7 linked regions of the Homo sapiens genome follow. The protein of the gene in region 6 purifies or fractionates together with the protein of the main gene of each other region. This does not show direct contact. Each region holds a gene or a part of one and is shown on either strand. Other genes may lie near its edges. The genes, in order: GPATCH8, RNPS1, PNN, SNW1, CLK3, LUC7L2 and CCDC9.

What was found.
Region 1: the proteins of LUC7L2 (region 6) and GPATCH8 purify together in Homo sapiens (affinity purification with mass spectrometry; 4 studies listed by BioGRID and IntAct, with this or other methods). This does not show direct contact.
Region 2: the proteins of LUC7L2 (region 6) and RNPS1 purify together in Homo sapiens (affinity purification with mass spectrometry; 6 studies listed by BioGRID and IntAct, with this or other methods). This does not show direct contact.
Region 3: the proteins of LUC7L2 (region 6) and PNN purify together in Homo sapiens (affinity purification with mass spectrometry; 4 studies listed by BioGRID and IntAct, with this or other methods). This does not show direct contact.
Region 4: the proteins of LUC7L2 (region 6) and SNW1 purify together in Homo sapiens (affinity purification with mass spectrometry; 3 studies listed by BioGRID and IntAct, with this or other methods). This does not show direct contact.
Region 5: the proteins of LUC7L2 (region 6) and CLK3 purify together in Homo sapiens (affinity purification with mass spectrometry; 4 studies listed by BioGRID and IntAct, with this or other methods). This does not show direct contact.
Region 7: the proteins of LUC7L2 (region 6) and CCDC9 purify together in Homo sapiens (affinity purification with mass spectrometry; 4 studies listed by BioGRID and IntAct, with this or other methods). This does not show direct contact.

What each region holds. Positions count from the first base shown.
Region 1 is NC_000017.11:44,423,407-44,426,906, reverse strand, and holds part of GPATCH8 (G patch domain-containing protein 8), read left to right. Parts: intron 1-2,414; coding exon 2,415-2,558; intron 2,559-3,500.
Region 2 is NC_000016.10:2,258,127-2,261,626, reverse strand, and holds part of RNPS1 (RNA-binding protein with serine-rich domain 1), read left to right. Parts: intron 1-3,500. UniProt on the Homo sapiens protein: Part of pre- and post-splicing multiprotein mRNP complexes. Auxiliary component of the splicing-dependent multiprotein exon junction complex (EJC) deposited at splice junction on mRNAs.
Region 3 is NC_000014.9:39,180,987-39,183,720, reverse strand, and holds the end of PNN (pinin), read right to left. Parts: coding exon 1,858-2,734; 3' UTR 501-1,857; downstream 1-500. UniProt on the Homo sapiens protein: Transcriptional activator binding to the E-box 1 core sequence of the E-cadherin promoter gene; the core-binding sequence is 5'CAGGTG-3'. Capable of reversing CTBP1-mediated transcription repression.
Region 4 is NC_000014.9:77,740,657-77,744,156, reverse strand, and holds part of SNW1 (SNW domain-containing protein 1), read left to right. Parts: intron 1-3,500. UniProt on the Homo sapiens protein: Involved in pre-mRNA splicing as component of the spliceosome. As a component of the minor spliceosome, involved in the splicing of U12-type introns in pre-mRNAs.
Region 5 is NC_000015.10:74,618,836-74,622,335, reverse strand, and holds part of CLK3 (dual specificity protein kinase CLK3), read right to left. Parts: intron 3,140-3,500; coding exon 2,988-3,139; intron 2,328-2,987; coding exon 2,111-2,327; intron 217-2,110; coding exon 120-216; intron 1-119. UniProt on the Homo sapiens protein: Dual specificity kinase acting on both serine/threonine and tyrosine-containing substrates. Phosphorylates serine- and arginine-rich (SR) proteins of the spliceosomal complex.
Region 6 is NC_000007.14:139,404,894-139,408,393, forward strand, and holds part of LUC7L2 (putative RNA-binding protein Luc7-like 2), read left to right. Parts: intron 1-750; coding exon 751-894; intron 895-2,280; coding exon 2,281-2,457; intron 2,458-3,500. Other genes in the region: FMC1-LUC7L2 readthrough protein, read left to right, coding at 751-894, 2,281-2,457. UniProt on the Homo sapiens protein: May bind to RNA via its Arg/Ser-rich domain.
Region 7 is NC_000019.10:47,269,489-47,272,453, forward strand, and holds the end of CCDC9 (coiled-coil domain-containing protein 9), read left to right. Parts: intron 1-918; coding exon 919-965; intron 966-1,064; coding exon 1,065-1,200; intron 1,201-1,593; coding exon 1,594-1,699; intron 1,700-1,785; coding exon 1,786-2,190; 3' UTR 2,191-2,465; downstream 2,466-2,965. UniProt on the Homo sapiens protein: Probable component of the exon junction complex (EJC), a multiprotein complex that associates immediately upstream of the exon-exon junction on mRNAs and serves as a positional landmark for the intron exon structure of genes and directs post-transcriptional processes in the cytoplasm such as mRNA export, nonsense-mediated mRNA decay (NMD) or translation.

The sequences.
Region 1 (3,500 bases), on a different chromosome or scaffold from region 6:
GTCTTCTGGAGTTGAGAGAGAGTGTGAGAGAGAGAGAGAGAGAGAGAGAGAGAGAGAGTGTGTGTGTGTGTTGTTGAAGAGATCAAAGGCTGGCCTGATCTTCCCCTTCTTGATTGTTTTTGCCTAGCTGCTGAAAGGAGTCTGTCTTTAAGATTCAATAACTTTACTACACTATTGATTGTCACTGATTGTTCTGGGACCATTTTCATTGTCACACTATGTGCCCTTTCTTGTCCTGTGTAGTTGAGTGGATCTTCCTTTAGTGAGCATGTGCTGATAGCCTTTTTTTTTTTTTTTTTTTTTGAGACAAGGTCTCACTCTGTCACCCAGGCTGGAGTGCAGTGGCGCAATCTTGGCTTACTGCAGCCTCTGCGTCCCAGGCTCAAGTGGTCCTCCCACCTCAGCCTTTCAAGTAGCTGGGACCAAAGGCAAGTGACACCATGCTCAGCTAATGTTTTGTATTTTTGGTAGAGCCGGAGTTTCACTGTGTTACCCAGGCTGGTCTTGAACTCCTGAGCTCAAGCCATCTGCCTGCCTCGGCCTCCCAAAGTGCTGGGATTACAGGCGTGAGCCACCGCACCTGGCCTCAGCCTTTTCTTAGATCTGCCGCAATTGGGCAGAACTTTTTGCTTTTCTCTATGTGCATTCTTTGTACTGCAAATGTTTCCTCATCCACCCTAACCCAAGTTCATCCCTTTGTTCTTCCCAGATCTCAGAAATTCTTGATGAGTGCAAGAGATGTAGGTATATTCATTTCAGAGGATCCTTTTATGTACAGGATATATGTTTTGCCATTTTCTGAAATTGCCACCTTTGGCTTTTTTGATATTGCTTAGCTTTGCCTTGTCTGGCTTCTACTACATTTCCCTCATTCAGGTTCTATAAAGAGCTTAACTTTCCTTCTGTGTGTTTTTCATACTCCAGATCATATCTGTTGCCCAGTTCTTCTGAAAATGCAGTTGGTGGGGTTTTTTTAATTCATAATTTTGTTTTTATGATACCCAAGAAGAAAATCAAAGCTGTTTTCCTATACTGCTGTATTCATACCAGGAACTCTAGTTTTGTTGCTTAAATTTGCAGCCAGGTGTGGGGGCTGACACCTGCAATGTCATCACTTTGGGAGTCCAAGGTGGGAGGATCACTTGAGCCCAGGAGTTCATGACCAGCTTTGGCAGCATAGTGAGACCTCATCTCTACAAAAAATACAAAAGTTAGCTAGGTTTGCTGGTACACGCCTATAGTCCAAGATACTTGGGAGGCCGAGGTGGGAAGATTGCTTGAGCCCAGGAGGTGAAGACTGCAGTGAGCCATGAACTGCACTGTACTCCAGCCTGGGCAAAAAAGCCACAAGTCGTTTAATAGCCAAACAACATGAAACTGTCCGGGACTGTCAAAGAAAATTATTGTGAAGGATTAGATAGGGCAAAAATAACAATGTGCTACACATACTCACTTTTCAGTTTTAATAAGTCTGTCCAAATTAGTTCAGTACTGCCACTCCAGAAAATAATAACCTTTTCTTGTTTACTGATTAAGTAGCTCTTATGGGAGATGATAGAGCTGCTTTGAAACTGTAGATATAGTCTTTGAGATAAGACTTATCTTTTTTAGGTCAGTCTGCTAGAAGGAGTTGCTCATTATGAAAGTAATGCATCTACCCTGCTCTAAAAGTCAAGCAAGTAGTCACTTAGCATTCCTGTCCCTTTCTCATCCTTCTGTGCGACATTAGCAAATGAATATACTCAACTTGCTTTGAGGTATCTTTTAATTGTTTTCTCTTTTTTCCTTTTTGAGATGTCTTTTGATGTCTAGTTTTTAAGTGAAACTGCTGAGGCAAATTGGACTGCCTTTGAGTCAGTCCCACAGTTTTTTGTTGTTGTTGTTTTTCTCCAACCTCCTCTCACATGTAAGAGTCCCACAGTTTTCAATCTCGCTGAGACCAGCAGATAACACATATCTGTGGGTTGGCTTTCCAAGCAGTGCAGCTTATATGTAGAATGACCATAGAATATTTAACTCCATCATTGGCTACAGACTCAGGTAATGCTTTTTTCCTTCGTGTCTGAAAACTAGACTATTAATACAGGTTGTATATCCCTTATCCAAAATGCTTGAGACCAAAGGTGTTTCAGATTTCAGATTTTTTGGGGGTTTTGGAATATTTGCATTATACTTATCAGTTGAGCATCCTTAGTCCTTTTAAACATTTGTTTATTTGAAGACAATTGTTAGTATGACGACACACAGATTACCCACCAAAGTACCACTTGTGTTTCATCCAGCTTTTACTGGTACCACTAAATATTATGAAAAGCCCTTTTTTGTCTTCTCAGATAGACTGTTTTCTCTATAACATTCACTTAAAGTTTTACCAAGTTCATTTTTTGTTTCTTTGTATTTCATGGGTCTTGAAGGATTATGTTGACAAAGAGAAGGCAATTGCCAAAGCCTTGGAAGACCTCAGAGCCAACTTTTATTGTGAACTGTGTGATAAGCAATATCAGAAACATCAGGAATTTGATAACCATATCAACTCCTATGATCATGCACACAAGCAGGTGAGTTGTAGTTACTTGCTAACAGAAGAAGGTACCTATCTATTGTTACAACAATTGGATTTTATGAGTATACCCCCCAAAACTTGGTGTCTATGATTTCTTGTGTCTGCCAATCTTTATCTGCAGTCATCCAACACACTTTGTTTTTTCAGTGGCAGAAATCCTGACATAGACACCACCTCCAGCCCACACTCCCACATATACACTATTTGACAAATTGTGTTTTGTAAATCTTATATAATGTTTTTGCCTTTTATTGATTTCTAAGTTTTTATTTAATTTTGTAATTCAGCTGAGGGTCACTGGGAGCTTTGTTTCCATTTCTGCTCTTAACGCGTTAAACTTTGAAGAGTTATTCAGCAGACTGTTATTTTCAAGTTCCCTACATAAGATTTCATGCTTTATTGGCTACCATTTTCTATTATTAAGTCATTTTGCTATTCAATATACCTTGGAAGTTAGATAAATTTTGAGAAGGAAAATAAAATTAGATGCTATCTTAACTTTAACAAAAAACTCTGTTGCTGCATGTTGAAGAGCTGATAAATGAATTACACTTTGCAGTCTTTGCCCCCTCCCCCGCCGCCACCCCATCATTTTAGAGGAGAAAATTGTACCTAACTAGTTACTGATATACAGAAGATGGCAATAATCCCCCTGGGAGAGTTTAGAAGGGAAAAATAAATTGTTACACCTATAGGACAGTTCTGGCTTGTTAAAGAATTTCAAGCCATTTGATCTTGGGTGACTTTAACATAACTTACTAGGTTTTTGGGGGGTACAATAGTTGTATTTGTTAAACTTGTAAATTTATGAGCATTGGAATGATGTCTCCTAAGCTGGACTTGTTGAACTAAGATTTTTTTTTAGCCTTCATCTTCCACCAACCATAAGATTTCAGTGCACAGGTAAAAGGCAATCTTTGACCAAGTTTTATTCTTA
Region 2 (3,500 bases), on a different chromosome or scaffold from region 6:
TTAATATTTAACTACTCAGACAGTACTAAAACACTTGTTACAGAGGCCTGCGTTAGTGAGACCTGGCCTGCCACAATCCCCACTGTCAATTTGCTCATGCTTTTTATCATGCATGTATATGTATTTATTAATCACGAGAATCGTAGGGAGATGAAGCATTGTAATCTTTCTGGCTGCTTCCTGCTGAGAGAGGGTTGTCGTCATGGGGCACCAAACACAGCGCTGGAGTGGAAGAGGTGGATTTGTTCCCGGTAGCACTTTCTGTTCTGGGGGCTTCGAGGCAGCACCTGCTGAAACGTAATAGGATGCAACAGCCACACATAGAAGTAGGTTGCTGCTGTTTTCTTCCCAAGTTTAGTCTTCAGTTTACAGGGCTTGAGGAAAGCATAGCTTAGATTTCAGTGATTTCCAATTAGGAAAAAGGAAACAAAAAAGGAAAAAATTGAGAACAGTATTTGGGTGTACTATAGTTTTTGAAACAATTTTTTTTTTTTTTTGAGACGGAGTCTGGCTCTGTCGCCCAGGCTGGAGTGCAGTAGCACCACCTCGGCCCACTGCAAGCTCTGCCTACCAGGTTCATGCCATTCTCCTCCCTCAGCCTCCCGAGTAGCTGGGACTACAGGCGCCCACCACCATGCCTGGCTAATTTTTTGTATTTTTAGTAGAGACGGGGTTTCACCGTGTTAGCCAGGATGGTCTGGATCTCCTGACCTTGTGATCCGCCTGCCTCGGCCTCCCAAAGTGCTGGGATTACAGGCATGAGCCACCATGCCCAGCCAACAATTTTTTTTGGGGGCTTCCCATTTTTATTAAAAGACAAATAGGACTGGTATTTATTAAAAGACAAGACTGGTTTGCTTTATTATATTTGGCTTAATTATTTGTATACAGTGGAGCAAGAACCATAATTTTTTCTATAGGCCTTTTATCTGAGATAATACCTTTTTAAACCCAAGCCCAGCCATGGATATGTACAATTAAATACCTGTGAGTTGGGTGAAATCCTCTCCTCTTGAGGTTCCAAGATAACTTGAGGTTTTTGTCCATTAGAAAGTGGCATGTTTTACTTCCCTCAGATTAGAAACCCTGTACAGGGACTGTGTACACAAAATAGGAGGCCGGTTTTTTATTTGTGTTCTGTTACAAAAGAAAACGGATTTTTATTGCACTTACGCAAATAACTATATTGCTATAAATTAAGAATACGTACAAATAGACTGGGCAACATGGATCACCTGAGGTCAGGAGTTTGAGACCAGCGTGGCCAACATCGTGAAACCCCGTCTCTAATAAAAATACAAAAATTAGCCGGGCATGATGGCACACACCTGTGGTCCCAGCTACTTGGGAGGCTGAGGCAGGAGAATTGCTTGAACCTAGGAGGCAGGGATTGCAGCGAGCCAAGATTACGCCACTGCACTCCAGCCTGGGCAACAAAGTGAGACTAGGTCTCAAAAAAAAAAAAAAAAAAAAAAAAAAGAATACACACACACACACAAATAGTTTCCAAATTCTGAAGAAATTAGGTAGAGAGAAACAAATATGCTCCAAGTTTTGTTCCTAGGCGTATACTTAATTGTTGATAGCTTAAAACTTTTTTTGACTTTGAAAAATAAAAGGATTAGGAATATTTTAAGCAAAAAGTTAAAAAGATTACTTCAGTGTTCTATTAGTTCAGTTTATGCAGTTAATTTCTGCCCTGCTTGATATTAATGAACGCTTTACCTTTCTTTTTTTTGAGACGGAGTCTCGCTCTGTCGCCCAGGCTGGAGTGCAGTGGCGCAATCTCGGCTCACTGCAAGCTCCACCTCCTGGGTTCACACCATTCTCCTGCCTCAGCCTCTCGAGTAGCTGGGACTGCAGGCACCGGCCACCACACCCAGCTAATTTTTTGTATTTTTAGTAGAGATGGAGTTTCACCCTGTTAGCCAGGATGGTCTGGATCTCCTGACCTCGTGATCCGCCCGCCTCAGCCTCCCAAAGTGCTGGGATTACAGGCGTGAGCCACTGCACCCGGCCTTATTTTAGCTCTTTAAGAGTCCTGAATGTTTTTTCTTTATTCTGATGTCACAATCTGCAAAGTTATTAGAAATCTGTATTTAAGAGCAACTGTTAGAACTCTATAGCTGATTATAAAACCACCTTCTAAAAAGGATTAAAACAAGACAACAATTGTTTATGGATGACAAAAAGGTTTTAGGGCAGCCATAGTTAAAGACACAATTGACGAAATTTGTTAGCTCTGTGGCACACAATAATTTAACATAACAATTATAATTATTACTGATCATGTACACTAGGATATATTGCAATTGTAGGAGTTTTACGTGATTTTGGGACACATATCAATAACATTTATACAAATACAGCCCAAACAAAGCCAAACCCAATTTTATATTTGGTAGTGCTTCCTGTATAATTTTTGGTACCAAATAAGCCAAATTTCACTTTTACATCAGTGTGCTGTTAATGTTAAAACCCAATCCTTTTTTTTTTTTTTTTTGAGACTTTTTTCTGCTCTTGTTGCCCAGGCTGGAGTACAATGGTGCAATCTTGGCTCACTGCAACCTCCGCCTCCTGGGTTCAAGCAGTTCTCCTGCCTTAGCCTCCCGAGTAGCTGGGATTACAGGCAACCTCCACTATATCCAGCTAATTTTTGTATTTTTAGTAGAGACATGGTTTCACCATGTTGGCCAGGTTGGTCTTGAACTCCAGACCTCAGGTGATCCACCCGCCTTGGCCTCCCAAAGCAGCTGGGATTACAGGTGTGAGCCACTGCGCCCGGCCTAAACGTAATTTTAATGCTTAATTTACAGAAAAACTAGATGATACCCCTTTAACTTTAGCCAGCATGTTTACATACAGAATTTTCTTTACAATCAACCTCCCACACCTTTTTTTGAGACAGAGTCTTGCTCTGTCGCCCACGCTGGTGTGCAGTGGCATGATTTTGGCTCACTGCAACTTCCACCTCCTGGGTTCAAGCAATTCTTCTGCTTCAGCCTCCCCAAGTAGCTGGGATTACAGGCTCCCGCCACCACACCTGGCTAATTTTTGTGTTTTTAGTAGAGATGGGGTTTCACCATGTTGGCCAGGCCTGTCTCAAACTGCTGACTTCAGGTGATCCTCTCGCCTCAACCTCCCAAAGTGCTGGGATTACAGGCGTGAGCCAACGCGCCCGGCATGGATTCCAGTTCTTAGTGGGTGTGTGATTACCGAAAAGATGTTTTAGGAACACCTTTTTTTTGTAGCTCCAGTTTAAAGGAACACTATTCTTGGGGGAAAAAAATTAGCAAATATGCGTAGATTAACATTTTAGAGAGTTTCCAATCTGTTAAAAGCTTAAGGATCAAATTCAGTTTTCTTACATAGAATACATTTGGCTTTTTATATGGGAATATTTCCTTTAATCATTTCTGAGAACCAGAAGTTTCCCAGTATTTCAGCATTTTTAGTTTATTTTGCTGAGTGACTGGATTTACTGAATCTATACAGTTTAT
Region 3 (2,734 bases), on a different chromosome or scaffold from region 6:
TAAGACCCTGTCTCCGAGAAAAAAAAAAAAAAAAAAAAAGATTAAAATGGCCCCTGCACAAGGATGACATGCAAATTCATCAAGCATTCCATATAAGAAAAATTCCTTTCACATACTATGATCAGTAGCGCTTAACTGAAATTACTGAAAATTACTTTCCCCTCAAGCATTCATTATACCCCCATTACTACCCCTCCTATAGTAGAGCTTCAAGCCAATACTAGCCTTTTCTGTAAGCAACATGAATATTGTTCAGATTTTCCAGGTACAAATCAGTAGACAAAACTTAATTTGTATAAAGGATTTTAGTGCATACAAACTGTCATCAAATAAGGTGCTTTTTAACCAGGTTAAATTTTATGATCATCCCTTTAATTCACTATTTACCAACCTCTTTCCTGCCAGGGCACACAGGAAATGAAACATTTTGCTGGATAAGCCACAGATGAAGGTACTAGTGGTGGAACTGGCTCATGGATACAGATTGCTGTGCAAAGCTCTATGCATTTACTGTTTTAATAATTACTCCAATAAAAGGATTTTTAAAAAGAGATCTTTTAACACATCCACTTACACAAGTGAGTTATATACACACAAAAACTAACTGGAAATACTTCTTCACATTTTCACTGTAACCATTTACTTGTCAAGGGAAGGCAAAATGAATATTCAAAGTCAAGGCTAAAGCTACAGTGTTAAACTCAAAGAAGGATGCAATTTAAGTGCTCTCTTGTATAAAGCATCAGAAAGTTAATACAAGTACTAGTCTTAAGCAGTCACACAAGTCTAAGCCACATTTATTTGCACATGTATAGTAATGGCCAACAGATACTCCAAGTTCATACAAATTTGTAAAACAACAAAGTTAATAATCACTTGGTACACTTGTGTGTTATCTTGCTTACATATTAAAACCTAGATGAACTTCCTTCATTTTGTGGACTTCCATACAATACTTCCTTAAACAAAATTCTTGAAAACACATATCAGCATGTTTAAGTTAGAGCCAACACAAAGTTAAGACAAGACACAAACTCAAAAACCAAGTTTGAAAGATACTTTTCTACCTCCCTCCCCTAGAAAGAAGTGATTTTCTTTAACAGATGTATGTTATATCACACAAGTAACCATGAAGACAAAAGAATGACGCTCCCATCATCAGGAAGAAAATGCCAACCAGATCATACTGTTTAGTTATCTACCGAACATATGGTTAAAATATGAGAAACGGGGGAAAATGCTTAGATTAAAATAACAAGGGAGAATAGAAAATAGCAAATGATTTTAAAGAGAACTGTTCCCCCTCAAAGCTGCAAAGCTCTGACTCTGACAACTAAAAACTGTCCAAGGCAAATAAAAACGAGGAAACCTTCAAAAACATTCTAATCACGTGCAGTATCTAGTGTTAAAAGCTGAAAATGATAAAGAGGATATTTATTATACAAGTGTCAACGAGGACATCCCAAAAATAATGAAATAAACACACATTTATTTCTACAAAAGCAATGTATGATACAGAATTAGAAGGGAACAGACTTAAAGATTTGCCTATTAAAATATACAGATTCTTACTGAAGAGTATAGGATATTTAAAAAAGATGACAAGGGATGTTAATCTTTTTTTATTATTATCATTTTTACATATTTTGGAACCTCACATAATTTTGATAAATAACTCTTACAAAATTATGCAAAAAGTACAAGAATGTCTGGTAAACAAACAGTCTGTATTTTCCAAAAAGATTTTTTACAACATGCAATTCTTAAGGCAGCATCCTCTTTACAAGGAAAGGTAATCCTTTTTTATCAAGAAATCTTCTGCTGCAAAGAATGGCTAAGAAAGCCTGGCTTCTTCCATTAACGCCTTTTGTCTTTCCTGTCTGATTTTCGGTCTCTTTCACTTCTTGAAGATCTTTTGCCTGATCGACTACTCTCTGATATAGACCTCTTTCTGTCGGACCGGGAATTCTTATCCTTTGATCCTTTTGTATCTCTACTACTACCACCTTTTGAAGATTTGTGACTTCTTTCTAGTCCTGAAGTATCCCTTCTCTTCCGATCCACGCTCCTTCTGTGCTTTCTATCTCTATTATGTCCCCGGCCCCTACTCCGACTTCTACTCTCACTACTACTACTAGTGCTACTGCTACTATCTCTGCTGCTGCTGCCACTTGTACTGGAGCTGCTACTGGAACTACTGCGACTGCTACTACTTCCACTGCTGGAACTACTTCCACTGCTGCTACTGGTTGAACTGCTACTAGAACTGCTACTGCTACTGCTTCGACTTCTACTCTTGCTTGTTTTATTTCTAGCTCGACCTCTACTTCTGCTCCTAGTTTTGGTTTTGCTCTTGCTCTCTGGATGTACTGTCAAGACTGGCTCTACTGGTACCTCAGTGAGTTTTACAGACTCTACAGGAAAATCCTTCCTCTCAGGTAGTAAATGCCCTTGCTCCTGAGTAACTTGGGGTGTTGGCTGTAAAACAGCTAATGACAAATCCTCAGGCTGAGAGGGAGGCTGGGACTGGAGTACTGGTTGGGACTGGGATTGAAGCTGAAGCTGGGGCTGAGACTGAGGCTGAGGTTGAGCCACAGGCTCAGGTTGGGGCTCAGATTCTTTTTCTTCTTTTTCCTCAGACTCCTTTTCCATGTCTAAAGCACTGACATTCTCTTTCCCAGGAGAAAGGGTTTTACATTCTTTATCTGGCTCAATTTCAAATTCCATTTCTGGT
Region 4 (3,500 bases), on a different chromosome or scaffold from region 6:
TTTTTCTTTTTTTTTTTTTTTGAGATGGAGTCTCACTCTGTCACCCAGGCTGAAATGCAGTGGCACGATCTTGGCTCACTGCAACCTCCCAAAGTGATGGGATTACAGGCATGAGCGACTACACCCGGCCAGATCGTTGCTTTTGTCTGTAATGCAGCCACTAGAAACAAACCCCAAACTGGGACCACTCTCAGGTTTATATCTTTTTGTTTGTTTGTTTTCTAGAAGTGGATAGATTCATGCATGAAGTTTGGAATGCATTGAGTAATTCAACATTAATCAAGTAACTATTATGTGCCATTGGCACTGGGGGAGCACTTTGATTGTTTAGGACCATCTTCAGCATTGTACAATGTTTAGCATAAGTGGCACTACCTATAAATCCCAGTAGCGTCCCCATCCTACCCCCATTGTCTTAACTAGAAACACCTCACACATTTACAAAGGCACTGGGAGAGAGGAGTTAGAGGTGGCAGTGATGCCCTGTTTGACAATCACTGATTTTCCTGTTTTAGAAGAAATAGAAATGGACTGCATAATATATAAAATAGGATTTAAAAAATTTGTTATTCCAGAGACTGAACAGGTTATTGGATTTATGAATTTGGACTAAGATTTCTGATTTGCTTCCGAGAGGTCTGGTATTCTTCAGAAACGAGGGAGTTCTCACTGAAATATTAATAGTGAATGAGTAAGAATGGAAAATACTAGGTGTTAGGTATAAGAGGTGAGAAGAATCAGTGAGGATTCTAAGACGTAATATTCTAGGACAAGTCTAAGGCAATTCTCTACATGTGAAGTAAGTACTGTGTATACGACTTATTAGTCATACAAAATTGGGGATGAAAAAGTTTTTTTTAGTGTAAATCTTGATACAACCAAATGCTTTTTTTTTCCTAATTATGAAAGTGATAAATCTTTTTTTTTTTTTGAAACGGAGTTTTGCTCTTGTTGCCCAGGCTGGGGTGCAATGGCACGATCTCAGCTCACCGCAACCTCTGCCTCCCGGGTTCAAGTGATTCTCCTGCCTCAGCCTCCTGAGTAGCTGGGATTACAGGCATGTGCCACCACGCCTGACTAATTTTGTATTTTTGGTAGAGACAGTGTTTCTCCGTGTTGGTCAGGCTAGTCTCCAACTCCCAACCTCAGGTGATCCACCCACCTCGGCCTCCTAAAGTGCTGGGATTACAGGCATGAGCCACCACACCCAGCCAAGTGATAAATCTTGAAATAAAGGGCTTGGTGTATGTATTTTTCCCTCTGAAATAGTTATGTAAGAAATACTACATACAGGCCAAGTGCATTGGCTCATGCCTGTAATCCCAGCACTTTGGGAAGGTTGAGGTGGGAGGATCATTTGAGGCCAGGAGTTTGAGACTAGCCTGGGCAATATAATGAAACCCTATCTCTTAAAGAAACGAAATGTTACACACGTACTATACCCAAAAGAATGCCTTCAACGTATTACCCCTAAAAAACCGTAACAACTTTAAACTGACCCCATGATAAATTATATGTTATCTTGTTTGTATGATTTCACACACTAGCTAAGCTAGATTAGCGTTTTCTTTCTACCTCACATAGTGAATGTTTTGACAGGCTTATCCTTTTAGTCAGTCTAGTTCTTTGCCAGTTTTCTGTAATAAAATATCTGTTTCACAGATGAGTTACTACTTTATCTTGTTGACAAAGCTTATTTGTGCTTCTGATACTTTCAAGAGTATATTGTATTTTTCAGAAAACGCTCCCCAGCCCATTTGCCTCCTGGTACTCAGTTTCCTCAGCACATTTAATTCTCAGACTATAAAAATTTGGGGTTTTGGCCAGGTGCTGTGGCTCACGCCTGTAATCCCAGCACTTTGGGAGGCCGAGGCGGGTGGATCGCCTGAGGTCAGGAGATCGAGACCAGCCTGGCCAACATGGTGAAACCCCATCTCTAATAAAAATACAAAAATTAGCTGGACGTGGTGTCATGCGCCTGTAATCCCAGCAACTTGGGAGGGAGGCTGAGGCAGGAGAATGGTTTTAACCCGGGAGGCGGAGGTTGCTATGAGCTGAGATCACGCCATTGCACTCCAGCTTGGGCAACAAGAGCAAGACTTCGTCTCAAAAAAAAAAAAATGGGGGGTTTTATAATTAATTACTATGGAGGAATCTTGCTCTTCAGATGTCCTTCACTCAGCCTTGTGAGATACTAGAATCTTATTGATGCTCATTTGAAGGGTTATTAACTTTGGAATGCCCAAATAAGGAGCAGCAAATGACTCTTGTATGCTAAATTAGTATTGACACTTTATGTTGAACATACATGACTACCAGGGAGCCATTTACTTAGAATCCTTTCCTTATAACCGTTGCTATGGAGAAGTGATAAACTCCTCATGATTAACTCTTCATAGAATTGGTATTTTTTTCTTGTGTTGTTATATAATTTTCAGCTTAGGGTTGTATAGGTTTTTCCATGCTGAGAGGAAATAAGACTTTTGAGGTCAGATAGTAGCTGTATGATCTTAATGTACTGAACCTCACTCTTTTCAGTAGAGTGAGCTTTATGGTCCCTTCCAAAATCAACACTCTTAGAGTATGGTGACACTAATAACTCACATATCAGTAGTACGTGTTTTGTGCTAAATCATCTTAGGCTTTCTTACCTGATCCCTCTTCTCACTCCTGAGAAAAACAAGCTGGAGATTTTAGTGTATAGCCATGAGATAGTTTTTTCTGGGAAATCAGTAGCTTATAGAAAGTTCTGTACGGCCTAAAATATAAACTTATTTATTTATTCATTCATCCATCCATTCTTTAAAATAGAGATAGGTCTTGCCATGTTGCCCTGGCTGGTCTCGAATTCCTGGGCTCAAGCTATCCTCCAACCTTGGCCTTCCAAAATGCTGTGATTACAGGCGTGAGTCACTGTTCATGGCCTATAAACACCTTTAGCATGTAACAGAATATCTCTAAAATTCATTTATTTATTCATTTGTACAAAAAATATTGATCAAATATCTCCAGTCATTATTATAAAGCACAGGAGACACTTTTTTTTTTTTTTTTTTTTTTGGAGACAGTTTCACTCTTGTTGCTCAGGCTGGAGTGCAATGGCATGATCTCGGCTCACTGTCACCTCCGTCTCCTGGGTTCAAGCGATTCTCCTGCCTCAGCGTCTCATGTAGCTGAGATTACAGGCACCCACCACCATGCCTGGTTAATTTTTCTGTTTTTGGGAGAGACGGGGTTTCACCATGTTGGTCAGGCTGGTCTTGAAATCCTGACCTCAGGTGATCCACCCACCTCGGCCTCCCAAAGTGCTGGGATTACAGGCGTGAGCCACCGTGCCCTCCCCGTTTTTATTGTTTTAATACGGGAGACAGATAATAACCATGTAAAGTAGATAATTTCATGCTGTGAACAGTCTTGATCACAGTAAACAGTGCTATGGAGCAAATGATTGGGTGGGGAGGGGTTACTACTAAGGCAATCAGAAGAAGCCTCGATAATGG
Region 5 (3,500 bases), on a different chromosome or scaffold from region 6:
ATTACTGGTGGCCCCGCTAAGGCACCACGCGCACTAGAGGCCCCTCCAGGCAGGAGAGGTCTCGTCTAACAAGGGGGGTAGAAAGTAGAGAGGTAAAGTTTTACGAAAGGTGGCTGTACATCGCTCTTGGAGCCAATCGCCGATCCGGCACACCAGGTGACCCTCCTTGTCATCTTCCACACTCCGGCTGCTGCGCTTACTGCTCTGTTGGCTTCTCTGCATGCACCGCCCCCCGAAACGCCATCCGACCAATCGCATGGTAGGCGGTTCCGATTGACAGATTGAGGTGTCAGTCAAAGGCAGAGGTGGAGACGGTGAGGAGCCGGTGGGTTGGTTGGTTGGATTTTCCAGATCCCAGCATTTCATAAGGCACACAGCATATATAACGATAGGGATATTGCAAGGGACACGTCAAGACACAAACTGACTTCAAAAACAGAAAAGTAAAAACAGCTACAGGTATGTAAAGAAAACTCGGACATTATCTTTAAGAGGAGCGCCACAAACGCTCAGGAAGATGACCTGCCTCTGCTGCTGAGGGCCACGCTGTGAGGAGAGCCATCGCCCCGACTCCCTCCTCCTCCTCCTCCGAGTCTCTCCCTCCCAGACCCTCCCATGTGGCTTTGGGCCAGAGCGGAAGATGCAGTGAGAACGGCGGCGCAAGAAGGCAGCTGGCCCCGCCTGGGTCCAACCATCCAGACTGGTCAGCGGCTGCTCCGGCTTCAGCTGCAGAATGCCCAGCCTGTCCTTGCCTGCCTCTGTTCGCCCACGCAGACTTGCACATGCCTGACAGCTGCCACTCACAGCCAAGCTGCTACCTGCCTCCAGACGGCATCCTTGGCCAGATTTCACCATCACTACCAGAAACAGCCTTCCGTCAGCAGCCCTCCTGCCACCAGCCTCAAGAAGGAAAGCAGCCTGGGATCCTCTGGGCCAGTCGACTGCCAGGCTTCCTACCACAATGGCCCACACAGGCCCCATGCCAGCTCCTGCCCTGGCCTTGGCACCCATGCTGCTCACAATCTAGGCCCATCCCAAGCCTCACGACGATCGATAGAGGGCACCAAACAGAGAAACAGAGCCAGACCTGCACTGCCATCCTGTGGCAGCATGTGGCAGTGTGCAAAGAGGTGAAAGGGCCACGCTGCAATCGCCCGCACAGTCAACCCTCAACCTGTAGCCACTCAAAGAAGTCACAGAAAGCGCTGGGCAGAGAAGACACCTGGCCTCTCCACTGCTCCTCAGGGGCCTCAAGGCCGGCAGGAGGGAGGCAGGGAAGAGGGATGGGGGAGAAGAGAAGACCGCACGTAACCTCGGAAATACACAACTGGCTTTGCTTCCCCAGGGGACTGAGCGCAATGTGGGCTCCAGAGACCTTACAACCCTCCATGCTAGGAATACTGGCCAGGCCCTGCTCTGGGCATGTGGCCTGCAACTGGACGAGGCCTGGGGCGGCAGCCTTTCTGCCATTTCTTCACATGCCCCATCACACAGGCACCTGCCCCTCCTCACCGCGACTGCCCCTCGTAAAGAGGCTCGGCTGGAGAGGGCCTGGCTGGAGATCAGAAGGGAAGTTCCCAGTCTGAGCTGGCTGACAGGCAAATCCTCCGGTCCTGTGAGGCACTCCAGACTGGGGGCCTTTGGGAAGGGGTGTGCAGATGAGACGCAGAGGTGGGTGCAGTCCACATCAGAGCACTCAGTTACACGAGGAGGCAGTCTCTGGGTGGGAAGGACCAGGCCATATAGCTGCAGACCACCATACCAGCCACTCTACTAGGATCCCTAAGAAGTGTCCTAAGAAGTGTCCCCAGCCACTTGCACCACGTGGCCTTTGTCTGGAGCACTGTGTAGACATAGACAGGCCAGGGGCCAGCCAGCATCGGAGCCAGAGTTCCTACAGTTGCCACTGGAAAGAGCCAGAAGACACAGAGGCCAGGACCCTGTGATCAGCCCTACACCTGGACCAGACAACACATACACACACACATGCACGCACACCAGTGCACGTGCACAGGGCTGGCAGTACTCACCCGGACCAGCCAGCCTGAGAGAAGGCTAGGAAGAGATGAGGCCTTTAAGCCCCAGCCAGCACACTCTGGCTACCACTCACCGAGGAGGCGCTGCTACAAGACCTGGTGCGGCGTTTGTGGCAGTGGTGGGCATGCTTGCGGGTCCGGTATGGCCCCCTCTCCCGCGATCGCCGACGATGACGAGAACGTGAAGGTCCATAGTAGTCCTCTCCAAAGGATGGGCTCCGCTCTTCACACCGGTATGTATCGCTGTCACGGCGCTCCCGGTACCTCCTCTGGTAGGGCAGGCGGTCATGGCTGCCAAAAGGGGGATGGGGACGCTGGTCAGCTGGGTCCTTGCTGTTAGCAAGCAAGAGACCTGTGGTAAGGCCACTGTAAAGGGCTAAAGGGGGACAGCCTGTGCTAAAAGCATCCACACTGGTGGGAAGTGGGCAGAGAGGGGAGGGTGCAAAGGTACTAAGCCCGCCCTCCAGAGCCCTGTCCAACGACAGCATCCTCCAGCTGTAGGAGGAGGGGTACAGGGGAAGGGGAGTATGGTAGAGTGCCTCCAAGGGTTCTATACCCTTCCAGAGTTCCCTGTGGCCTGCTGCAACTCTAAGTTTGACCTGGGAGCTAAGATAGGCCCAGGGAGCAAACTTTCCAGGGGTGAGGTTATGTTCCTAATCCTCACCAAGGAAGGCTTAGGAGGTTAAGCGGAAAGATGCTGGCCTAGAAAATGGGGGAATGTGTGGGGAGAAGAAAAGGCACTCCAAGACAGAGAAAGAGTGGGCGGCAAGGATGGTAGCTACTGCTGAGGCCAAGGCATGCAGGTGAGGTTAGTGGAGGAGCCCAAAGAGGACAGGGCAGGGATCCAGGGACAGCTGGGCAGGGATGGAGTCATCTCAAGGAGTCTGGAGCTGCCACAGCTGAGCCCAGCTGACAGAAGGAGTCTTTCCCTCCTATCTAGTTCCCTCTCACCTTCTGGACCGAGATCTTCGTGGGGGAGGCTCCCTTCGGGACGGGTATCGCAGTCTCCCTTCATGTTCCCGACTGTAGGACCTCCTCCTCTTCCATCGGTAGCTCAGGTACGGGTCTGGTTCAGGGGAGCGGTATCGCTTACAGTGATGCATCTAGGCCACGAGGAACAGAGAGCCCTGCTAAACACACAGCCAGCCACCTCCAGCCATGGGGCTGCTGGGGCTTCCCGGTTGCTCCTGAAGAGGCCCATTGTTCTGTTTGAAGGCGGCCCCTCCCAGAGGTTTATGAAGTGAAGAAGAACTCTGAGGTCACACTGGTCAAACAGCAGACAATAGGAAACAACTTTCTCTGCCAGTGAACAAACAAACAGCTCCCAGCAGAGCATCACTAGCCTGGTGGCCTGGGTGCTCAGGGAACTGGGTGAGCCAGGGCCAGGGGCTGAGGCAGTAACCCTGGGTGGGGACGGTGAACACTACCACAGGGAGATCAAAGGCAGGAGAAAGGGGAGCCTCC
Region 6 (3,500 bases):
TAATTGGTTTAGCAATAAGTCAGATCTGATGGATTCCTGAACTTGATCCACCAATTCATTTCTTTAACTCATATTTGAGCCTAGGCTATTTGCTGAGCACTAGAGATACAAAGATGGGAAATACAGATAGCTGTCCTTAAAGTAGTATGATATTTATGAAAGGAACTGTCAAAAAAGATACAAAGGTGACACAAAGGAGAGAGTATGGCCATCTTTGCTGATGTGTTTAAGTGGGGCTGGGATGTGGTGACTGTTCAGGAATGTTTTACAGAAATGGCCCTTGAGTTGTATCTTGTTGGAACGAGTGAATATTCAGTAGGCAGGCGAGAGGTAAGGGATCCCATCCCAGAAAGAAGAGTATATGCAAAGTAACAGAGGTAGAAAACAACAGGGTAAGTTTGGGGAAACTATAAATTATGTTGTGAGGTGGGGGAGTAGCAAGAGATGGTTTAGAAAAGTACAAAGGGCCAGATCATGGAAGAAATCGTATTTTACACTAGGAATACACCACCTCGCCAGAGGATAGAAAGTTATATTGGGCCCAGTAGTAGCCCTGACTTCATTGAGGTAAGGCAGGCAGGCTCAGAACATCCTGATGTCTCAGTAGTTCATTTGGGATACGCTCAGAAAGCATTCTTTAACCACATACTGCCTTAGATAACAAGTTTTTTCTCAGCAGTTCTGAAATACTTTGAAATTTAAAATTCATTCTCTTGTTTATTCATGATCTTCTTTTTTATTTCTTTTTAGGCAGAACGTGTTCATGAGTTAAATGAAGAAATTGGTAAATTGTTAGCCAAGGTGGAACAACTAGGAGCTGAAGGGAATGTGGAGGAATCCCAGAAAGTAATGGATGAAGTAGAGAAAGCACGGGCAAAGAAAAGAGAAGCAGAGGTAAATTCTTAATAGTAGTAGACGAATTCTGCTTAATTTGGTAAGACTACAAATAAAAAGTAGTAGATGAAACTTCAGTATCTATACTTCTCTAAGAACATGTATTTGAATGGAAATTATTGAACAGTTGTTAAAGAGAAGTTGAACTAAAAGACAAAAACAAAACAAAACTCGGAAAAAGCTGGTTGTGGTGGTGCGTGCCTTTGGTCCCAGCTATTTTGCAGGCTAAGGTGGATCGCTTGAGTCCAGTTCAAGTCCAGCCTTCTTCTTTTTGTTTTTTTGAGATGGAGTTTTGCTCTTCTTGCTCAGGCAGGAGTGCAATGGCATGATCTCAGCTCACCGCAACCTCTGCCTCCCGGGTTCAAGCGATTCTCCTGCCTCAGCCTCCCAAGTAGCTGGGATTACAGGCCCATGCCACCACACCTGGCTAATATTTATATTTTTAGTAGAGACAGGGTTTCTCCATGTTGGTCAGGCTGGTCTTGAACACCCAACCTCAGGTGATCCACCTGCCTCGGCCTCCCAAAGTGCTAGGATTACAGGCATGAACCACTGCACCAGGGCCTTTTTTTTTTTTTTTTTTAAGACAGAGTCTTACTCTCTCTCCAAGGCTGGAGTGTAGTGGTGCGATCTCAGCTCACTGAAACCTCTGCTTCCTGGGTTCAGGCGATTCTCTTGCCTCAGCCTGCTGAGTAGCTGGGACTACAGGTGTGCACCACCATGCCCGGCTAATTTTTTGTATTTTTAGTAGAGATAGGCTTTCACCATGTTGGCCAGGCTGGTCTTGAACTCCTGACCTGGGGTGATCTGTCCACCTCAGCCTCCCAAAGTGCTGGGATTACAGGCGTGAGCCACCCGGCCTGGCCTGTTTTTTTGTTGTTGTTGTTTTTTAAAATACTTTTGGTAAATTTGTCTTTCAGAAAATCTCTCTAAGTTGTATTTATTGATATAAAGTTGTTCATAGTGTTCTCTTTTAATATCTGTAGAATGTTTGCAATTCGTGTCTTTTCTTAATTAATCTAGCTGGTCAGTTTTATTTTGTTTTTCAAAGAACCAGTCTTCTGATTTTATTGTTTTTTTCTTGTTTTCTATTTCATTGATTTCTGTTCATGTTTATTATTTCCTTATACTCCAGTGGAGAGAGGCGCTAAGGATAGAGGATGGGGATAAAGGGAACCTATAATTTTCATAACAAAATAGCCATGCTTTTGTGGTTTTTTTTTTTTTTTTTTTTTGAGCTGGAGTCTCGCCCCAGTGAGCCACCGTGCCCAGCCACTTTTGTGTATTTTTTAGAAAACACTTTTGGTATAAGCATAGTATATTTTATTTAATTGTATGACTTTTAGTGAGATTTATATGGTCATTGTTTTTCTCACTTTTGTTTAGGAAGTTTATCGGAATTCTATGCCAGCTTCCAGTTTTCAGCAGCAGAAACTTCGAGTCTGTGAAGTCTGCTCTGCCTATTTAGGACTTCATGATAATGACAGACGACTGGCTGATCATTTTGGGGGTAAACTGCACCTGGGATTTATTGAAATAAGAGAGAAGCTTGAAGAATTAAAGGTACATTGGTAAAATATTCCTCACTTTATCCTCTTGTTCTTTTGATCTGTATCAGTTGCCTTTTTGTACAATATTCTTGACTATGATTCAGTAATATAGTATCTAATGATTAATACTAAACAGTGTAGGATTATAGATGGAAATTCAAGTTGGTTTAATGGATGCTGCCTGAGAAACAGACTTAATATTATCCTGTTATTTTGGGAGTTACCATTTTATATTAGATATGACACCGAGTTAGGGATCTTTCAAACTAGTTACTAAAAGAGTCCCATAAAACTTCATTGTTATTGTTCTTTTCAATAAGGTCAATAAGAATGTAATAATATAATATTTATAAGAAGTTTGAGAAAATGAACCCAATATTAATTTGAAATATTTTGCAATTCTTTATTAAATAGCAAGCTTGCAGAATCTCTAGTTTTATTTTATGCTCCTGCTTCCACTTCAGAAAGGACTTATGAAAAAATTTATATTTTTTTAAAAGGACAATCACTATTACTTAAATAATATAGGCTTTTGTGGGGAAGACAACACAGTTTTTACTCTTGTTGTTTAGAGGGGATAAACACAAAAAAGCATGGTGATATTTCTGAAGTGGTAAAGATGAGTGTTGGTGGATATAATCTATTTACCTTTTAATATGCTGATAGCTTTTTAAGAATTGTGGCACTGTAGTGTTTTTTCATGAATTGAGGTCTGGCTGACAGATAGGAAACATGGGATAGTCATTTTCTTTGTAACTGTTATTGTCAACTGGAATTAACTCAAGGTCCATAGCATTTAAAATAATATAGAATCAGAAAATGCCTAGGGACATCTCCATATTCTCAGGTAACAGTGGGCTCTTTTCAGTATTCTGAGTAGCTAGGGTGATCTCAAGTAATTTTTTAAAAATTTCGAAAAGAGTCACTATAGCAAATAGTTACTAGGCTCCAAGTTAAAACTCCAGTGGTTCCTACTTGGGAGTCTTTGCAGATAGACCTAGCAACAGAACTCAAGCATTTTACTCATATCTTTAAAAAGCAGCAGCATCAGGATGG
Region 7 (2,965 bases), on a different chromosome or scaffold from region 6:
TACAGGTGCCAGCCACCAAGCCCGGCTAATTTTTGTATTTTTAGTAGAGATGGGGTTTCACCCTGGTCTCGAACTCCTGGCCTCAGGTGATCCGCCCACCTGGACTCCCAAAGTGTTGGGATTACAGGCGTGAGCCACCGTGCCCGGCCCTAATATTATCTTAGCTGGGGGTTCAGGAAGGCCTCTTAGCAGAGCCCTGAAAGGAGGTGAGGGAGTGAGCCAGTGAAAAACGTGGGAAGAACGTTCCAGGAGCAGGCGCTAAGGCCCTGAGGCAGGAGCTAGGTGTGGTGGAAGAGCCTGCTTAGCTGGAGAGGTGAGGGAGACTGGTGGGAAAGGTCAGATAGGGAGTTGTGGGTCATGTACTTGGGCAAGGGTCTGTGGTGATCCCCCCAAATTTTTGTTTTGGCGCCCACATTCTGAATCTTTTTGTATTTGTCACTATGCTGTCAAATTTGCCTCTTGCCCATCACCTGGTCCTATCCTTTGTTTTTTTTTTTTGAGATAGGGTCTCCCTCTGTCACCCAGGCTCGAGTACAGTGGCTTGATTACTGCTCACTGCAGCCTTGACCTCCCAGGCTCAAGTGATCCTCCCTCCTCAGCCTCCCGAGTAGCTGAGATTACAGGCACGTGCCACCACGCCCAGCTAATTTTTGTATTTTTTGTAGAGGTGGGGCTTCACCATGTTCACCACGCTGGTCTTGAACTCCTGGGCTCAAGCGATCTGTCTGCCTCGGCCTCCCAGAGTGCGGGGATTACAGGCTTGAGCCACCATGCCCGGCCCTGTCCTACTTCTAGTGTCCCCTGTCTGGTTGACCGTCTGTCTCTGATCCGATTCCTGACCCTGACCTCTCCCATCTTCTTGATCCTCTTGTTACCCTGTTCCCCCAGCTGCCCGCTCACCCGTTATCTTTCCCCCAGGTTCAAGGATGGCCCAGTCCCTGCCCATGAACCATCCCACCGCTATGGTGAGTGGGTGCCCTTGGATGAGCTGAGGCTCGGTCTGGGAGTCAGGGGTGGTGTGTGCCACACCTTCCCTTCCCAATGACACCTGGGTTCTGTTGCAGATGACCAGGCCTGGGCCCGGCCCCCGAAGCCCCCTACTTTTGGGGAGTTCCTGTCCCAGCACAAAGCTGAGGCCAGCAGCCGCAGAAGGAGAAAGAGCAGTCGGCCCCAGGCCAAGGCAGCGCCCAGGGCCTACAGGTGGGGCACCCCTTCTGCGGGCTTGCATACCCCCAGGGCTCTCCGCAGGGCGTTCTCTTCTTTGGCTTGCTGTGAAGGTGTGGGTACATCTGTCTGTCCCTGTCTTTGTCTTGGCCCTGTCTATCTCGCAGGTCCGTGGTTTGAGGGGCTTGGGATCTGGCTCTTGGTTTTACCCTCATCTGTCCCCTTTCTGCCGTCACCCATCTCCTCTCCTGCTACCTGCCCCACTTTCGTTCTGTCCTTGACACATGGGGACACACATCCGCCATTCCCTCAGCCCTCCACCATGCCAGATGCTCTGGGCAGCTCCTCCCTAGGGAGGGTGGAGGCAGGAAGCCCCTTCCTCCTGTCTACTCTCCACCCAGGCATCACCCCTCCCTCTGTTCCCTCTAGTGACCATGATGACCGCTGGGAGACAAAAGAAGGGGCAGCATCCCCAGCCCCTGAGACTCCACAGCCTACTTCCCCCGAGACTTCCCCCAAGGAGACACCCATGCAGGTGAGGCTGGGCTGTGGTTCAGGGCACGGGCCTGGGGTGGGGGCTCAGGACCTGTGCCTTGCCCTGACTTGCCTGTGTCCCCAAAGCCACCCGAGATCCCAGCTCCTGCCCACCGGCCTCCTGAAGACGAGGGGGAAGAGAATGAGGGGGAAGAGGATGAAGAATGGGAGGACATAAGTGAGGATGAGGAAGAGGAGGAGATCGAGGTGGAAGAAGGTGATGAGGAGGAACCAGCCCAAGACCACCAAGCCCCAGAGGCTGCCCCCACCGGGATCCCCTGCAGTGAGCAGGCCCACGGAGTCCCCTTCAGTCCGGAGGAGCCCCTGCTGGAGCCCCAGGCCCCTGGCACGCCTTCCAGCCCTTTCTCACCACCCAGCGGCCACCAGCCTGTGTCCGATTGGGGTGAAGAGGTGGAGCTGAATTCTCCCCGGACCACTCACCTGGCTGGCGCCCTCTCCCCGGGTGAGGCCTGGCCTTTTGAGAGTGTATGAAGCTGGCTGCCTGTGTGTGTGTGTGTGTGTGTGTGTGTGTGTGTGTGTGTGTGTGCGCGCGCGCGCGCGCGCGCGCGCGCGCTAGAGGGGTGTGGCTGGTGGGGGACCCTTGGGGCTGGGCCCTGGGACCCAGTGTGCCCCACAGCCCTGTCAGCTGAGGGGGTAGCGCAGCCCATGCTCTTCTGTACTGTCATGCCCGTCTCTGGAATGTCCACTCCCAGAGCCTGCCCCAGCCCTTCGAGCCCCCTCCCCAATAAAGAATTCACATCCTCCAATGACATTCCCCCAGGTGTGTCCTTGAACCCCCTTCAACTCCCCCTGGGCCTTCTCTCTTGGGGTGGGGAGATGTCAGGCGGGAAAGGGGGCTTGACTGGGGCTCCCCTTCCCTAGGAGGTGGCCAGTCAGCCCCTGCCTTCCCGGAGAGTGGGCCCAGCCTCCGAGGAACCCAGGAAGCTGAAGAGGAAGGGTCTGAGGCAACTCCAGGTGGGGGAGTGCATGGGGCATGGGATGGAGGCCGCTGCTTCCTCTTTCTCTGGGGCTGAGGGGCAGAGGGCTTGGGGGGAGTGGGGTGAATGTGTGTAGGTAGCAGTTGGACCATAGAGGTGAGGTGAAAAGGGTGAGCTCGGATAGGGATGGGGGGCTGGAGCCGGGTGGCAGGGGTGGGGCAAAGGGGCAACTTTATGGGCCAAGCCAATAGGAATTTGGTATGGAGGTTGAGGAGGTGGGGTTAAGGAAAGGATTAGAATTTTGGAGTCGAGCTCAGGGGTTTTGGAAA